Linked DNA regions of Homo sapiens: regions 1 and 3 are each linked to region 2. The links come from fine-mapping of genetic effects on gene expression. A gene starts in region 2. Each other region holds a variant in brackets. All regions are shown on one strand. Distances are between the middles of the regions.

Region 1 (5,227 bases), 39 kb before region 2:
TTGAAGGAATGTTGATGTGGGGAGGCAAGAAGGAAAGGAAAGTGTCATCCCAGGCAAGAGTACACCAATAGCAGGAAAGACAACAATGCATGGAGCAGAGGGTTCCTGTTGTGAAAAAAAAATGAGGCATGCAACATCACTAATCACCAGGGAAATGCAAATTAAAACCACAATGAGATACCATCTTACTCCCGCAAGAATGGCCATAATTAAATACTTAAAAAACAGTAGATATTGGTGTGGATGCAGTGAAAAGGGAACACTTTTACACTGCTGATGGGAATGTAAATTAGTACAACCACTATAGAAAACAGTGTGGAGATTCCTTAAAGAACTAAAAGTAGGCCGGGTGTGGTGGCTCACACCTGTAATCCCAGCATTTTGGGAGGCCGAGGCATGCGGATCACCTGGGGTCAAGAGTTCAAGACCAGCCTGCCCAACATGGCAAAATCCCGTTTCTACTAAAAATACAAAAAATTAGCCGAGCGTGGTGGCAGGCACCTGTAATCCCAGCTACTCAGGAGGGTGAGGCAGGAGAATTGCTTGAACCTGGGAGGCAGAGGTTACAGTGAGTCAAGATCACGCCGCTGCACTTCAGTCTGGGTGACAAGAGTGAAACTCCATCTCAAAAAAAAAAGAGAACTAAAAGTAGAACTACCATTCAATCCAGCAATCCCACTACTGGGTATCTACCCAAAGGAAAGGAAGTCATTATATGGAAAAGACACATGCACGTGCATGTTTATAGTAGCACAATTCACAACTGCAAAGATATGGAACCAACAGAAGTGCCCATCCACCAATGAGTGGATAAAGAAAATGTGGTGTATATACACACCATGGAATACTACTTGGCCATAGAAAGGGATGAAGTAATGTCTTTTGCAGCAACTTGGATGGAGCTGGAGGCCGTTATTCTAAGTGAAGTAACTCAGGAATGGAAAACCAAATATGGTATGCTCTCACTTATAAGTGTGAGCTAAGCTATGAGAACTCAAAGGTGTAAGAGTGATGTAATGGACTTTGGGCACTCTGGAGGGAGGCTGTGAGGAGGCTGAGGATAAAAGACTACATATTGAGTACAGTGTACACTGCTCAGGTGATGGGTGCCCTAAAATCTCAGAAATCACCACTAAAGAACTTATCCATGTAACCAAAAACCACCGGTTCTACAAAAACTATTGAAATAAAAAAAAAACATTAAAACTTTTTTTTTTTTTTGAGATGGAGTTTCGCTCTTGTTGCCCAGGCTGGAGTGCAATGGCATGACCTTGGCTCACTGCAACCTCTGCCTCCCAGGTTCAAGCAACTCTCCTGCCTCAGCCTCCCGAGTAGCTGGGATTACAGAGGCTCACCACCATGCCCGGCTAATTTGTTGTATTTTTAGTAGAGATGGGGGGGTTTCTCCATGTTGGCCAGGCTGGTCTCGAACTCCTGACCTCAGGTGATCCACCAGCCTGGACTTCCCAAAGTGCTGGGATTACAGGCATGAGCCACCGCACCTGGCCTAAAACTATTTTTTTTTAATGAAGTATAGATGGGCAGACAAGATGGCACCAGCACACAGAAGGCCATGAACATACAAGACAGAGTTCACACAGCTTTGAAAGATCTCAGACAGGTAAATCACTATGGCTTGCACCATCTACGAAATGAGAAAGTTCTCAGCTTTCTGAGAAAACTTTAAGTTCCCTTATTTTTTGAAGAAGAGATGTTCTGGTAGTTGGGTTTTACAGAAGTGGTCACGGATTGCCTGACCTCCCTAGACCACATCTGCAAACTAGCTGGCCAGGACAGAAGGTCAGTGGTCCTGGGAAACTTTGTTTATGCTGAATTAAGAGGATAACTGCAACCTAGGGCTCTGCAGCTCTAAATAACTGAGCTAACTCAGTGGCTCCCTCCAACCACACACAAACAGAGCTAGTGTTTTATGAAGGAAAATGGCCAATTACCAACAGACAGGTGAGCATACCGACTAGTCAAAAGGGAGAAAAGGACACTGGTTGGGGGCAACCAGGAAGAGACAACTAAAGGGCTGGTAGAAGGCTGCAGCCTTTTGTGTGTGTGTGTGTGTGTGACTGAGTTTCGCTCTTGTTGCCCAGACTGGAGTGCAATGGCGCAATCTCGGCTCACCGCAACCTCCACCT[T/C]CCGAGTTAAAGCAATTCTTCTGCCTCAGCCTCCTGAGTAGCTGGGATTACAGGCATGCGCCACCACACCCAGCTAATTTTGTATTTTTAGTAGAGACAGGGTTTCTCCATGTTGGTCAGGCTGGTCTCAAACTCCCAACCTCAGGTGATCCGCCCAACTTGGCCTCCCAAAATGCTGGGATTACAGGCGTGAGCCACCACGCCTGGCCGACAAAAGGCTGCAGCCTTTTGAAGGAGACTCAGCTCATCTTCTACCGATCCCCAGTGGACAAGCAGAACTGTTTTCAGTTGCGATAGCCAAATTCTGAAGCTGCTAGGTTCTCCATTATTCATGAGTAGCTCCGCTCCCTCCAGCCTTGGGGCTGCTTTCTGTTGGCAAAGGCCTGTGTACTTCTGCAAACCTTAAAATATGAGAGCATCTGATGTTCCAGGGATCTAAAATACTGCAAATTCAGGTAACAAAACTGCTTTCCAAAGGCTCTACTACAGGGATCTTCAGTAGCTTTCCAGTCCTTCAAAATCTGTCTCCTCAGAGCTATACAAAGCCTTGGCCTAAGCTCAGCTTCCTAACTCAGTCTTTCTTCGGATAGGAAGAGGGATTTACGGATTTTGGTAAAGCGCTTTTTGTCCGTAGAAATCAAAATTAAGAGATGGGGACTGAATCACCAGAAGATATTGTCCATCCCTATTGTTAATTGTGTTATTAAGATTGAATAGCAAAGATTGACTAGCATTAAATAGAAGATAAAATAACCTATTTCTGAGTGGGTTCTTCATTTCTGAGTGACGTTAAGAAGATACATCTACCTGGAAAAACACATTTGAAGGAAAGGGAGGGCTCAGGCCAGGCACTATCCCCTATACTACCTCATTCAGTCCTTGCAAAACAAACAAACTAACAAACTTCTGTGAGTCTCCATTTTACATATAAGGAAAACAGCCTCAAAGGATTTAAACACACTTTGCAATATTGAAGAGGAAGAGGCAGCCAGGATTTGAACCAGGACTATTTGATCTTGAAGCCCATTCCCTACACAATTTCCCTTCATGTTCCTGGGTGTAATGGACAAACCACCTCTAGCAGAAGGGCTGAGAGAGAAGCCGGTCTCTTTCCCAGTCCCCTGTAGGGCTGCTTCGGCTTTAGGCGAAATTCGTGTTTGACAACTGTGGACTTCCACCCTCAACCTTGGCTCCATGCCTGTGGATAAGAAGGTTTGTAGGGAAGAAGACTTGGAGCAGAGATGTGGGCTTCCTCTTCCTCCCCCTCAGTCACAACTGCCGAACCCAGAATGGAAGCCAATCTCTGAATGAATCAAATTTGAATTTGGGCACACCTACACTTTCACGGTCCAAGTGCCTGCTGAGGATCATGTGGCTAACCTGTCCAGCCCATCCTCCTGCTCTTACCCTAATTATTTTCTTAGACCCTGAGCAACAGATGTAAAATCACCATCCACCCACCTAACTCTGTATCCTGAAGGCCATCTTCCAATGCACACAATATTTGAGGAAGTGGAAAAGGGTCCCTTATTCCAGGAGAGAAGTTACTTAATAGCCCAGAAATGAAACCACTTCCTCTCCATGAACACTCCAGATATAATAAAGTCCTCTTCCCCCTCTACTTGTCTCACCAATATGTGTCCCTGGTATGTCTGGGACAGGATACTGCCTTCAATACCCATATGGAAAACCCTGACATAACTCCTCATCAAGAGCTGGCAGATAGGAAGGAAGAATTTAATGATGCTTATCCATGTCTAAACTAGAACATAACCTGTGTGTTATGAGAGGATCCTAATGTTTGGAGAGTTGGGGGAAATCATTAAAAATGTAGCCCCACCAGCCGCAGTGGTTCATACCTGTAATCCTAGCACTTTGGGAGGCCGAGGCAGGTGGATTGCCTGAGCTTGGGAGTTCAAGACCAGCCTGGGAAGCATGGTGAAACCCCGTCTCTACTAAAAATACAAAAAATTAGCCGGGCATGGCAGTGTGTGCCTGTAATCCCTGTAATCGCCTGTAATACTTGGGAGGCTGAGACAAGAGAATCACTTGAACCTGGGAGGCAGAGGTTGCAGTGAGCCGTAATAGCACCATTGCACTCCAGCCTGGGTGACAGAGCGAGACTCCGTCTCAAAAAAGGAAAAAAAAAATGTAGCCCCATTTAAGACTGGATCAGAAATCAGAAAAACAGAAAAGACCTCCTCTTTATCTGGCCCTGCATGGCTAAATATGAAGAAAGGGTTGCAGAGAATAAGAAAGAGTCTGTAGCAGTCAAGGAAAGGAGACCAGAGCTGAACCCAGGCTGGTCCGCAGAGGCTGGAAGTTGTTCAGAACCAAAGGATATTCTTTAGTTTCTTCTTTTCCTTCCTCTTCCCTTTCCCTTCCTTTCCTCTTTCTTATTTTGAGACAGGATCTTAGCCTGTTGCCCAGGCTGGAGTGGAGTGCAGTGGCGCAATCATATCTCACTGCAGCTTCTAACTCCTGGGCTTGAGTGATCTTCCTACCTTAGCCTCCTGAGTAGCTGGGACCAAAGGCATGCACCTCCACACCTAGCTAATCAATTTTATTTATTTTATTTTATTTTATTTTACTTTATTTTATTGAGATGAGGGTCTCACCATGTTGCCCAGACTGGTCTTGAACTCCTGGCCTCAAGTGATCCTCCCCTTCAGCCTCCCAAAGTGCTGGGATTACAAGCATGAGACACTGCACCCAACCCCAAAGGATTTTTTTTTCAATAGGTTTTTGGGGAACAGGTGGTGTTTGGTTACATGAGTAAGTTCTTCAGTGGTGATTTCTGAGATATTGATGCACCCATCACCTGAGCAGTGTACACTGTACCCAGTGTGTAGTCTTTTATCCCTTACCTCCCCACCCTTTCTGAGTCCTCAGAGTTTATTGTATCATTCTTATGCCTTTGCATCCTCATAGCTTAGCTCCCACTTATAGGTGAGAACATACGATGTTTGATTTTCCATTCGTGAGTTACTTGACTTAGAATAATGTTCTCCAGTTCCATCCAGATTGCTGCAAATGGCATTATTTCATTCCTTTTTATGGCTGAGTAGTATTCCATGGTA
Region 2 (5,227 bases):
TTAAGTTATCCCCTTACTTAAGGTTTATTAATTTCACATAGGAGGTTACCTTTAGGTAAAGATTCAAAAGCCAGAAATATTGGCCATTTGTCCTGGCTAAAATCTGGTAATAAAAGATTTTTATAGGATTTTTATTTTGAGAACTCCATAGTCAGAAATCAACTTAATTAAAGACGATATTTGGGCTGTATGTATACAGATATTGTTTTAAAAGCCCCTGCTGGCCAGGCACAGTGGCTTATGCCTATAATCCTAGCACTTTGAGAGGCCAAGGTGGACAGATCGCTTGAGCCCAGGAGTTTGAGACCAGCCTGAGCAACTTGGTGAAACACCATCTGAACAAAAAAAAAATACAAAAATTAGCTGGATGTAGTGGCAGGCACCTGTAGTCCTAGCTACTCAGGAGGCTGAAGTGGGAGGATCACTTGAGCCCAGGAGGCTGAGGCTGCAGCGAGTTGTGATCGCACCACTGCATTCCAACCTGGCGACAGAGCGAGACTCCATCTAAACAAACAAAAAGCCCCTGCTTTCCCTCTAAGAACTTCTCAGTCAATGGAATTTTGTCTTGATTTTCCATTTCTGTCTGTCTGTGTATTTATATGTGTTGTATGTATAGTATTTATATAAAAGAGCTCTAATTAATTGGCTTAAAGAAACTAAAATCAAACATTTTATCAGAAAAAATTGAAACTTTAATCTCTTTTAGGTCACGTGACTCTAATGATTTTTAAACATAAAGACAGTGTAAATAACATAAAAAATAAAGACAGTGTAAGTAAAGAATGTGTTTTGGTGGGAGGTTATAAGAAGGCGTGTGAATATGGTTTCTGTTAAAGAGAACGTAATTTTGTCTAGCTCAGAGGGTTTTAACTATTGGCCTCACCTAAAAGAGTAATGGGACAGCTGGGCATGGTGGCTCACGCCTGTCATCCCAGAACTTTGGGAGGCTGAGGTGGGGAGATCACTTGAGGTTAGGAGTTCCAGACCAGCCTGGCCAACATGGCAAAACCCCGTCTCTACTAAAAATACAAAAATTAATCAGGTGTGGTGGTGAGCGCCTGTAATCCCAGCTACTTGGGAGGCTGAGGCAGGAGAATCACTTGAACTCGGGAGGCGGAGGTTGCAGAGAGTCGAGATTGTGCCACTGCATGCCAGCCTAGGTGACAGAGTGAGACTCTGTCTCAAAAAAAAAAAAAAAAAAAAAGAGTAATGTGACAAAACTGATGGTTTAAGCAAGTTGAAAAGGGTTTGTGAAGGGTTAATCTCATGAAAAGTTCTGTGGGTATAAGCAGGTTGGCTAAGATTTAAAGGGGATTACTTAGTTTTTCCATAGGTCGAACACTGAAATAAAAGCACACTGATGTAGGGCCAGAATCCGGGCCCATGTGTCTGAATAATGGTTTTCTAGAGAATTTATTTGTTTAACAGAAAATTGTAAAGAATTATGAGAGGTTTGTGGACGTTTTACCTTATGGTCAAACTATGATTGTATAGATTTGTTTATAAGGTTTTATTAAGAATTGGATCTAACATTAATAATATACTAATGCAAAGGTGAAATTTTGCTTTCTCTCATAAACAAGATTTTTGCATAATATTTTAAAATAATGAGATTTTTGTTTACCTTTTAATAAACAACAGAAAAAGGAGGAGAGAGGAAATAGATTCGGTTGGCATCATGCTGTCTTTATTGCGACCTGCTTGGAAAGTTGACTCTCCCCTCTATCAGCAAGTAAAGATTTTTGCCTTTTAGAAATTTTGGAGTTATCATTTTGGCTACCTAAATGACTTGTAGTGACTCTATACTAATCTTCTCTGAGCAACTCTCCTCCATATCCTGTTGGGTAATGAGAACAAGTGGCACCCCCTCCCTCCAAAAAATCCATACCCCTTTATATTACAGAAAAGAAATCTTCAGAAAAGAGACATGCTACAATGAGACTACCATACAAGATGTGAAAGTTACCCCCCAAATTACAATATCATGAGACAAAATAAGGGAGAGCTGCTGTCTCTCAGTGTTTGTCCCTAGTAAGGACAACTAACCACTGAGCAAACGGACAACTGCACAGCCTTCTTTTACTCACAGAGTGTTGTCCACCTGCAGAGCCAAGTCCTCTCAATCTATCTGCACACTGCTGTGCACTTCTAGGCTCTCAGATGTTTTTAGGTCTACAAGTCCATATAACCACTCTAAGCCATGCGTCTTAAAATATGCCCTCATTTTCCATTGTTAAGCCATTGAATACAGACTGGTAGGTCACGTGGCTTCTGTAACACAGTCTAGGTCACATCGGTTAATGCTCTACGCGAATGGGACCCTGGAGGTCCTTACTCCTGCTCTCTTCTCCAGAGTAGGTTATACCTAAACCATCCTGCATCAGCCTTTCCCAAGGTCAGGGCTGTGCTGAGGGTGTAACAAGCATGGACAGTAGCCTAGCTTTCTTGGGAGATTTAAGTCTCGGGCTTCTAAAGGTTAAATATTGGTTTGTCTATAATGGGGAGAAGAAAAACAGTGGTATAACTATGTAAAATGATGGATATATTAATCTGCTTCACCATAGTAAACTTTTTACTATCTACATGCATCCCACAACATCATGTTGTATACCTTAAATACACACAATAAAATTTGTTTAAAAATAAAATTAAAAACTGTCTTCTAAAAAGAAAAACAGTGAAGAAAGAGCTCTGCTGTGAGCTCAAGAACAGCCAGTCACAGCTCCACCTAAACCCACGGGTGACTTAAAAGCTGAAGCCTTGTCATAATCATTGTCACGTACTCTTATTATGATGAAACTTTGCTCCTCTTTTTGCTGAGGAGATTCACCTAAGTTACTCTACACGACAGTAACTGAAACAGCACCCATTAGACTACTTTATGACATCCCCCTGCAGAGATCAAGAGTTCTGCAATCGCAGCTTCACAATCCTGAGAGACTACCAATTCAACCAGCCTTCAGGACTGGCACACTTCTGTGTGAGAAAAGTTCAAAAAATGGCTTAAGAAATTCAAAGCAACTGCTTACCCAAGATGAAGAGCACCCAGGGGAGGCAATGCACTGAAATCTCCCCACAGCTGCAGTCCCCAAGCTCAACTGAAAGACTGCTGCGAGCACTCTAGGTTAGGCTCAGAGCAAACCAAACACGTGCCTTCTGAAGTGGTTGCAGAGATGCAAACAGGAACCTCTAAATCAAGGTTCTCATTTCAGTCATCTGGCCCATTACCCAATTGTTATGTATACTTTCATTCTAAAAAGAGGTGACAAATTCAACCTACTGAGGTGAACCTCACACTCAGACCTCTTCAGGTGCCATCTCCCCTTTTAGATGACAAGCCCTCTGAGGGTAGGAGCTTGAATGGCACCAGGCAAATAGGTGCTGAGAAAGAAATCCATTTCATGCAAACAAAATACAATAAACGTAATATTAACACAAAACCTTCTGTGTTAAAGATACAGCAACCTCTTTTATTTTTCCTCTCAAAACAGAGGTGCAACCTCGCCAGGCAATCACCCAATCCCTGCTTCCAAAGATACGCCTGCCCAGTCCTCCAACTCACCATGTAGACATGAAAGTTTCCTCTGGCCATGTGATATCAGCATTTCCAGAATACAGGCAGCCATTGATTCCCATAGAGAACCTCTTGGGTGACTTGGACATCCTAGATTAGAACTCAAGGTTTCTTCACTTCAAGATACCTCTCAGTCTTAGTCACCACTTCAAAATAGGTGTTCTCAATGTACGCACCTTCAACCTCGGCTAGATTGGCTTGACCTAGGCATGGGCAGACTCATGGAACTTGTCCTGTATCATCTGAAAAGCTGTTGAACGTTTGCTCCCAAGCACTACGCTGCATGGTCCTTGAGAAGTGATGTGCTAGAGAGCCAGCAATCTCCACAGCATAAATATTCCCATCATAACCTATTTCAAGCTACCAACAGTTTAACAACTGGCTTGCAAAATTCCTAAAAAACTTAATACAGGTTGAGTATCCCTTATCCAATATGCTTGGGACCAGAAATGTTTCAGATTTCATATTTTTTTCAGATTTTAGAATATTTGCCGAATACATACAAGTTGAACGTCCCTAGTCTGAAAATCCAAAATGCTCCAATAAGCATTTCTTTGGAGCATCATGTTGGCACTCAAAGTTACAGATTTTGGAGTTGAAATAGCAACCACTCTTTTGTATTTTCAGATTAGGGGTACTCAGCCTGTAATCAGCTCTTGCTATGTAAGCTGGTTCCAGCACACCACGGAACCTCTGCAGGTTCTTGCGGGGGTACAGCTCCGACATGACTGGTTGCACGATGCTGAAAACCACTGTTAAATCAAGTTTAGCCTAAAGCTGCCTCCTTACATATTTTAAGTTTGGCCTAAAGGTTTCTCTGTACATCATGAACTATAACGTAAATGGAATAGTATACGGACTCTAGTCTACTCTTGTGCCAGTCACTGAGTTTGGCCAATCGAAGATGGCCAATGATTCAAACTATTCAAATAAGGCAAACACCGAGCTGTAACCAATCCGGCTATTTCTGTACCTCACTTCTGTTTCCTGTACATGACTTTCCTTTTGCTGTCCATAAATCTTCCACCACGTGGCTGCGCTGGAGTCTCTGAGTCCACTCTGGCTCAGGAGACTGCCTGATTCATGAATCATTCTGTGCTCAATTAAACTCTTTTAAATTTAATTCAGCTTTTAATACCACAAACCCCCATCTTTTTCACATGACAATTCCCACCTTTTATGTAGATATGCACACACCAAAAGGTAGCCAAAGGGTACAAAGAAGTTTATTGACTATGATGCAGTAAAGATACCAAGAGTTACAATATTTGTGCATATGGCCCAACAGTGCCTACCCTCCTACAAAACAAAAACAAAAACAAAAAAAGGCAATGAGGTGCAGCAGTTAACAGCCCAACACTGGAGTCAAAGGAATGGAGCTGCCTCTTCTGGCAGCAAAGTTTCAAGTTGTGCAATTAAATAATAGTCTTGGTCCACTCCTTGTGGGTCTTCTTACAGTTTCCCTTTAGAACCATAACTGAGTGACTTAGTAGAACATTCATATTCAGGATGTGGCCTCCAGAAGTGTCGTTTTGTTTTGTTTTGAACAAAGACGTGCTACCTTCTCTCTTGAAGCACCAGTGCTGGGTTCAGGAGCTACAGAGGACTAAGATGTTCCCCAAGTAGCCTGAAGTAACAGGTCACATGGAAAAC
Region 3 (5,227 bases), 33 kb before region 2:
TTAAGGAATCTCCACACTGTTTTCCATCATGGTTGTACTAGTTGACATTCCCACCAACCTTGTAAAAGTGTTCCCTTTTCACCACATCCATGCCAACATCTAAAATTTAAAATTAAAAAAAATTTTTTTTTATTATGACTGTTCTTGCAGGAGTGAGGTGGTATGGCATAGTGGTTTTGATTTGCATTTCCTGATAATTAGTGATGTTGAGCATTTTTTCGTATGTTTCTTGGCCATTTGTATATCTTCTTTTGAGAATTGTCTATTCATGTCCTTAGCCCACTAATTTATGGGTTTGTTTGTTTTATTCTTGCTGATTTATTTGAGTTCCTTGTAGATTCTGGATATTATAATAGTCCTTTGTTGGATATACAGATTGCAAAGATTTTCTCCCACTCTGTGGGTTGTCTGTTTACTCTGCTGATTATTTCTTTTGCTGTGCAAAAGCTTTTTAGTTTAATTAAATCCCATCTATTTATCTTTGTTTTTGTTGCATTTGCTTTTGGGTTCTTGGTCATGAAGTCTTTGCCTAACCCAATGTCTAGAAGGGTTTTTCTAATGTTATCTCCTAGAATTTTTATGGAGCCAGGTCTTAGATTTAAGTCTTTGATCTATCTGAAGTTGATTTTTGTATAGGAGAGAGATGAGGATCCAGCTTCATTCTTCTACATGTGGCTTGCCATTTATCCCGGCACCATTTGTTGAATAGGGTGTCCTTTCCCCACTTCATATTTTTGTTTGCTTTATCACACATCAGTTGACTTGTAAGTATTTGGCTATATTTCTGGGTTCTCTATTCTGTTCCATTGGTCTATATGCCTATTTTTATACCAGTACCATGCTGTTTTGATGACTGGCTTTATAGTATAGTTTGAAGTTGGGGAATGTAATGCCTCCAGATTTGCTCTTTTTGCTTAATCTTGCTTTGGCTATGCAAGCTGTTTTTTGGTTCCATTTGAATTTTGGGATAGTTTTTTCTATTTCTGTGAAGAATGGTGGAGGTATTTTGATGGGAGTTGCATTGAATTTGTAGATTGCTTTTGGCAGTGGTATTGTTTGACTCTGTGTCCCATCCAAATCTCATCTTGAATTGTACTCCCATAATTCCCACATGTTGTATGAGGGACCCAGTGAAAGACGATTTGAATCGTGGGGGCAGTTTCCCTCATACTCTTCTCATGGTAGTGAATAAGTTTCATGAGATCTGATGGTTTTATCAGGGGTTTCTGCTCTTGCATCTTCCTCATTTTCTCTTGCTGCCCCCATGTAAGAAGTGCCTTTTGCCTCCCATCATGATTCAGAGGCCTCCCCAGCCATGTGGAACTGTAGGTCCAATTTTTCTTCCCAGTCTCGGGTATGTCTTTATCAGCAGTGTGAAAACGAACTAATGGCCGGGCACGGTGGCTCACGCCTGTAATCCCAGTACTTTGGGAGGCCAAGGAGAGTGGATCACAAGGTCAGGAGATCAAGTCCAACCCGGCTTACGTGGTGAAAGCCCGTCTCTACTAAAAATACAAAAAATTAGCCAGGCATGGTGGCGCACACCTGTAGTCCCACCTACTCGGGAGGCTGAGGCAGGAGAATGACATGAACCCAGGAGGCGGAGTTTGCAGTGAGCCGAGATCACGCTACTGCACTCCAGCCTGGGTGACAGAGCAAGACTCCGTCTCAAAAAAAAAAAAAAAAAAGAAAACCAACTAATACAGTAAACTGGTACCCATTGAGTGGGGCACTGCTGAAAAGATACCTGAAAATGCGGAAGGTACTTTGGAACTGGGTAACAGGCAGAGGTGGCAACAGTTTGGAGGGCTCAGAAGAAGACAGGAAAATGTGGGTAAGTTTGGGACTTCCTAGAGACTTGCTGAATGGCTTTGAGCAAAAGCCTGATGACAATATAGACAATAAGGTCCAGGCTGAGGCGGTCTCAGATGGAGATGAGGAACTTGTTGGGAACCGGAGCAAAGGTGACTCTTGTTATGTTTTAGCAAACAGACTGGTGGCATTTTGCCCCTGCCCTAGAGATTTGTGGAACTTTGAACTGAAGAGAGGTGATTTAGGGTATCTGGCAGAAGAAATTTCTAAGCAGCAAAGCATTCAAGAGGTGACTTGGGTGCTGCTAAAGGCATTCAGTTTTATAAGGGAAGCAGAGCATAAAAGTTCAGAAAATTTGCAGCCTGATAATGTGATAGAAAAGAAAAACCCATTTTCTGAGAAGAAATTTAAGCTGGCTGCAGAAATTTGCATAAGTAACAAGTTGCTGAGTGTTAATCCCTAAGACAATGGGGAAAATGTCTCCAGGGCATGTCAGAGGTCTTCACAGCAGCCCCTCCCATCACAGGCCAGAAGGCCTAGGAGAAAATGGTTTCATGGGCCAGGCCCAGTGTCCCCGCGCTGTGTGCAGCCTAGGGACTTGGTGCCCTGCATCCCAGCCACTCCAGCCATGGCTGAAAGGGGCCACCATAGAGCTCAGGCCATGACTTCAGAGGGTGCAAGTCCCAAGCTTTGGCAGCTTCCATGTGGTGTTGAGCCTGCGAGTGCGCAGAAGTCAAGAACTGGGGTTTGGGAACCTCTGCCTAGATTTTAGAAGATGTGTGGAAATGCCTGGATGCCCAGGCAAAAGTTTGCTACAGGGGCGGGGCCCTCATGGAGAACCTCTGCTAGGGCAGTGCAGAAGGGAAATGTGAGATCAGAGCCCCCATACAGAGTCCCTACTGGGGCACTGCCTAGTGGAGCTGTGAGAAGAGGGCTACCATCCTCCAGACCCCAGAATGGTAGATCCACCAACAGCTTGCACCGTTCACCTGGAAAAGCTGCAGACACTCACTGCCAGCCCATGAAAACAGCCAGGAAGGAGGCTGTACCCTGCAAAGCCACAGGGCAGAGCTGCCGAAGACCATGGGAACCCACTTCTTGCATCAGTGTGACCTGGATGTGAGACCTGGAGTCAAAGGAGATCATTTTTGAAGCTCTAAATTTTGACTGCCTTGCTGGATTTCAGACTTGCATGGGCCCTGTAACCACTTTGTTTTGGCCAATTTCTCCCATTTGGAATGGCTGTATTTACCCAATACCTTTTACCCCCATTGTATGTTGGAAGTAACCAGCTTGCTTTTGATTTCACAGGCTCATAGGTGGAAGGGACTTGCCTTATTTCAGATGAGACTTTGGACTGTAGACTTTGGGTTAATGCTGAAATGAGTTAAGACTTTTGGGGGCTGTTGGGAAGGCATG[A/G]TTTGTTTTGAAATGTGAGGACATGAGATTTGGAAGGGCCAGAGGTGGAATGATATGGTTTGGTTCTGTGTACCCACCCAAATATCATCTTAAAGTATTATTATTATTATTATTTTGAGATGGAGTCTCGCTCTGTTGCCCAGTGTGGAGTGCAGTGGTGCAATCTCAGCTCACTGCAAGCTCTGCCTTCCGGGTTCATGCCATTCTCCTGCCTCACCCTCCCGAGTAGCTGGGACTACAGGCGCCCGCCACCATGCCCGGCTAATTTTTTGTATTTTTTTTAGTAGAGATGGGGTTTCACCATAGTCTCGATCTCCTGACCTTGTGATCTGCCTGCCTTGGCCTCCCAAAGTGCTGGGATTACAGGCGAGAGCCACCGCACCCAGCCCATCTTAAATTATACTCCCATAATTCCCACATATTGTGGGAGGGGCCTAGTGGGAGATAATTTGAATCATTGAGGTGGTTTCCCCCATACTGTTCTCATGGTAGTGAATAAGTCTCATGAGATTTGATGGTTTTATCAGGGGTTTCTACTTTTGCATCTTCCTCATTTTCTCTTGCCACCGCCGTATAAGAAGTGCCTTTCACTTCCCGCCATGATTCTGAGACCTCTGCAGCCATGTGGAACTGTAAGTCCAATTAAACCTCTTTTTCTTCCCAGTCTCGGGTATGTCTTTATCAGGAGCATGAAAACAAACTAAATACAGGCAGTATGGTCATTTTCACAATATTGATTCTACCCATGCGTGAGCATGGGATGTGTTTCCATTTGTGCTGTCTATGATTCCTTTCAGCAGTATTTTGTAGTTTTCATTGTAGAGGTCTTTCACCTCCTTGGTTAAGTATATTCCTAAGTATTTTAATTTTTTTTGCAGCTATTATAAAAGAGATTAAGTTATTGATTTGATTCTCAGCTTGGTTGCTATTGGTGTACAGCAAAGCTACTGATTTGTATACATTAATTATGTATCCTGAAACTTTGCTGAATTCATTTACCAGTTCTAGGAGCTTTTTGGATGAGTCTTTAGGGTTTTCAAGGTTTATGATTATGTCATCAGCAAACAGAGACAGTTTGACTTCCTCATTACCAATTTGGATGCCCCCCGCCAAAGGATTTTTAAGACTAACCTTATCAAATCTTACAATAGCAACTAAAAGTATAGGAACCGCACATTTCAGACCAAGAATTAAATCAGTGGCTGTCCACTGTGGCAACCCATGAGTATCAGGAAAGACAAATGCCTAAACTTCACCCAGAAATTTCAAATTAGGAGGCATGTGGTGAGGCCCCGCAAGGAGCCACCAGCAGGAATGAAGAACCACTGAGTTAAATCCCAAAACTGTATTCATACCCTACTTCCAACCCATTCACCCCAAACCTTTCCCAGGACCAAAACCAGCCTCTAGTGTGTTAGCACGGTTTGGCTTTCCTCCAGGAACTTCAGTTTTTCCAAAAGTTTCTAACTGTAAATTCCTCACCAGGACTTTACTTGCCCCCTCAACCGAGGCATAAAAATAGGACGATTTCCACAAACAACACTTATTTAGAAATAATGTGCCAGAGGAATGATTTGGGTTGGTTTTTATCTCTGATTCTTCCCAGTAACTCATCCACTAAGAACCCTGCCCACAGGAGGGTCTGATCCAACGGGGGGTTTGAGGCCACTCAGCTCAGCCTGGTTCCCAGGGCCAGTGTCCCACTCCAGAGGCCAAGTCCATGCTCCCCTCCCCTCAGCAGGCCTGTTCCTCCAGAGCTGTCCAGTCTCTCTGCCAGGCTCCAAATTCTCCATCTTCAGTGTATTGACCAAACAATGAGACAGGAGGACAGCTGGGAGAGCGGGAGTCTGAAATCACTGGTAGAGTGGCCCAGGACACACACAGGAGAGAGTCTCCACCGCTGCTGAGATGAAGGGACTCTCCATTCTTCTCAAAAGGCTTGCTGTGTTTTTGGCATTCCCCCACCTGACTTTTTTTCAAGTGAGTTGTTCCGATC

The links. PIP is the estimated chance that this variant, and not a neighbour inherited with it, causes the effect. A credible set is the group of variants that fine-mapping cannot tell apart.
Region 1: its variant is the best candidate, but not a certain one, in a credible set for the expression of JAML in whole blood (INTERVAL, PIP 0.87).
Region 3: its variant is the best candidate, but not a certain one, in a credible set for the expression of JAML in whole blood (INTERVAL, PIP 0.68).

The regions. Positions count from the first base shown.
Region 1 is chr11:118,183,230-118,188,456 of GRCh38, forward strand. No RefSeq gene overlaps it. Among named protein-coding and RNA genes, the nearest start is that of SCN2B, 9.2 kb to the left of the region's middle. The variant T/C (reference allele first, on the strand shown) is at 2,148.
Region 2 is chr11:118,221,912-118,227,138 of GRCh38, forward strand. JAML (junction adhesion molecule like) reads right to left here and starts at 3,100. Exons shown (of 10, transcript NM_001098526.2): 1 at 3,030-3,100. MPZL3 (myelin protein zero like 3) reads right to left here. Exons shown (of 6, transcript NM_198275.3): 6 at 4,779-5,227.
Region 3 is chr11:118,189,164-118,194,390 of GRCh38, forward strand. JAML (junction adhesion molecule like) reads right to left here. Exons shown (of 10, transcript NM_001098526.2): 10 at 4,562-5,227. The coding sequence ends at 5,162. Among named protein-coding and RNA genes, the nearest start is that of SCN2B, 15 kb to the left of the region's middle. RefSeq lists an enhancer at 5,101-5,227. The variant A/G (reference allele first, on the strand shown) is at 3,232.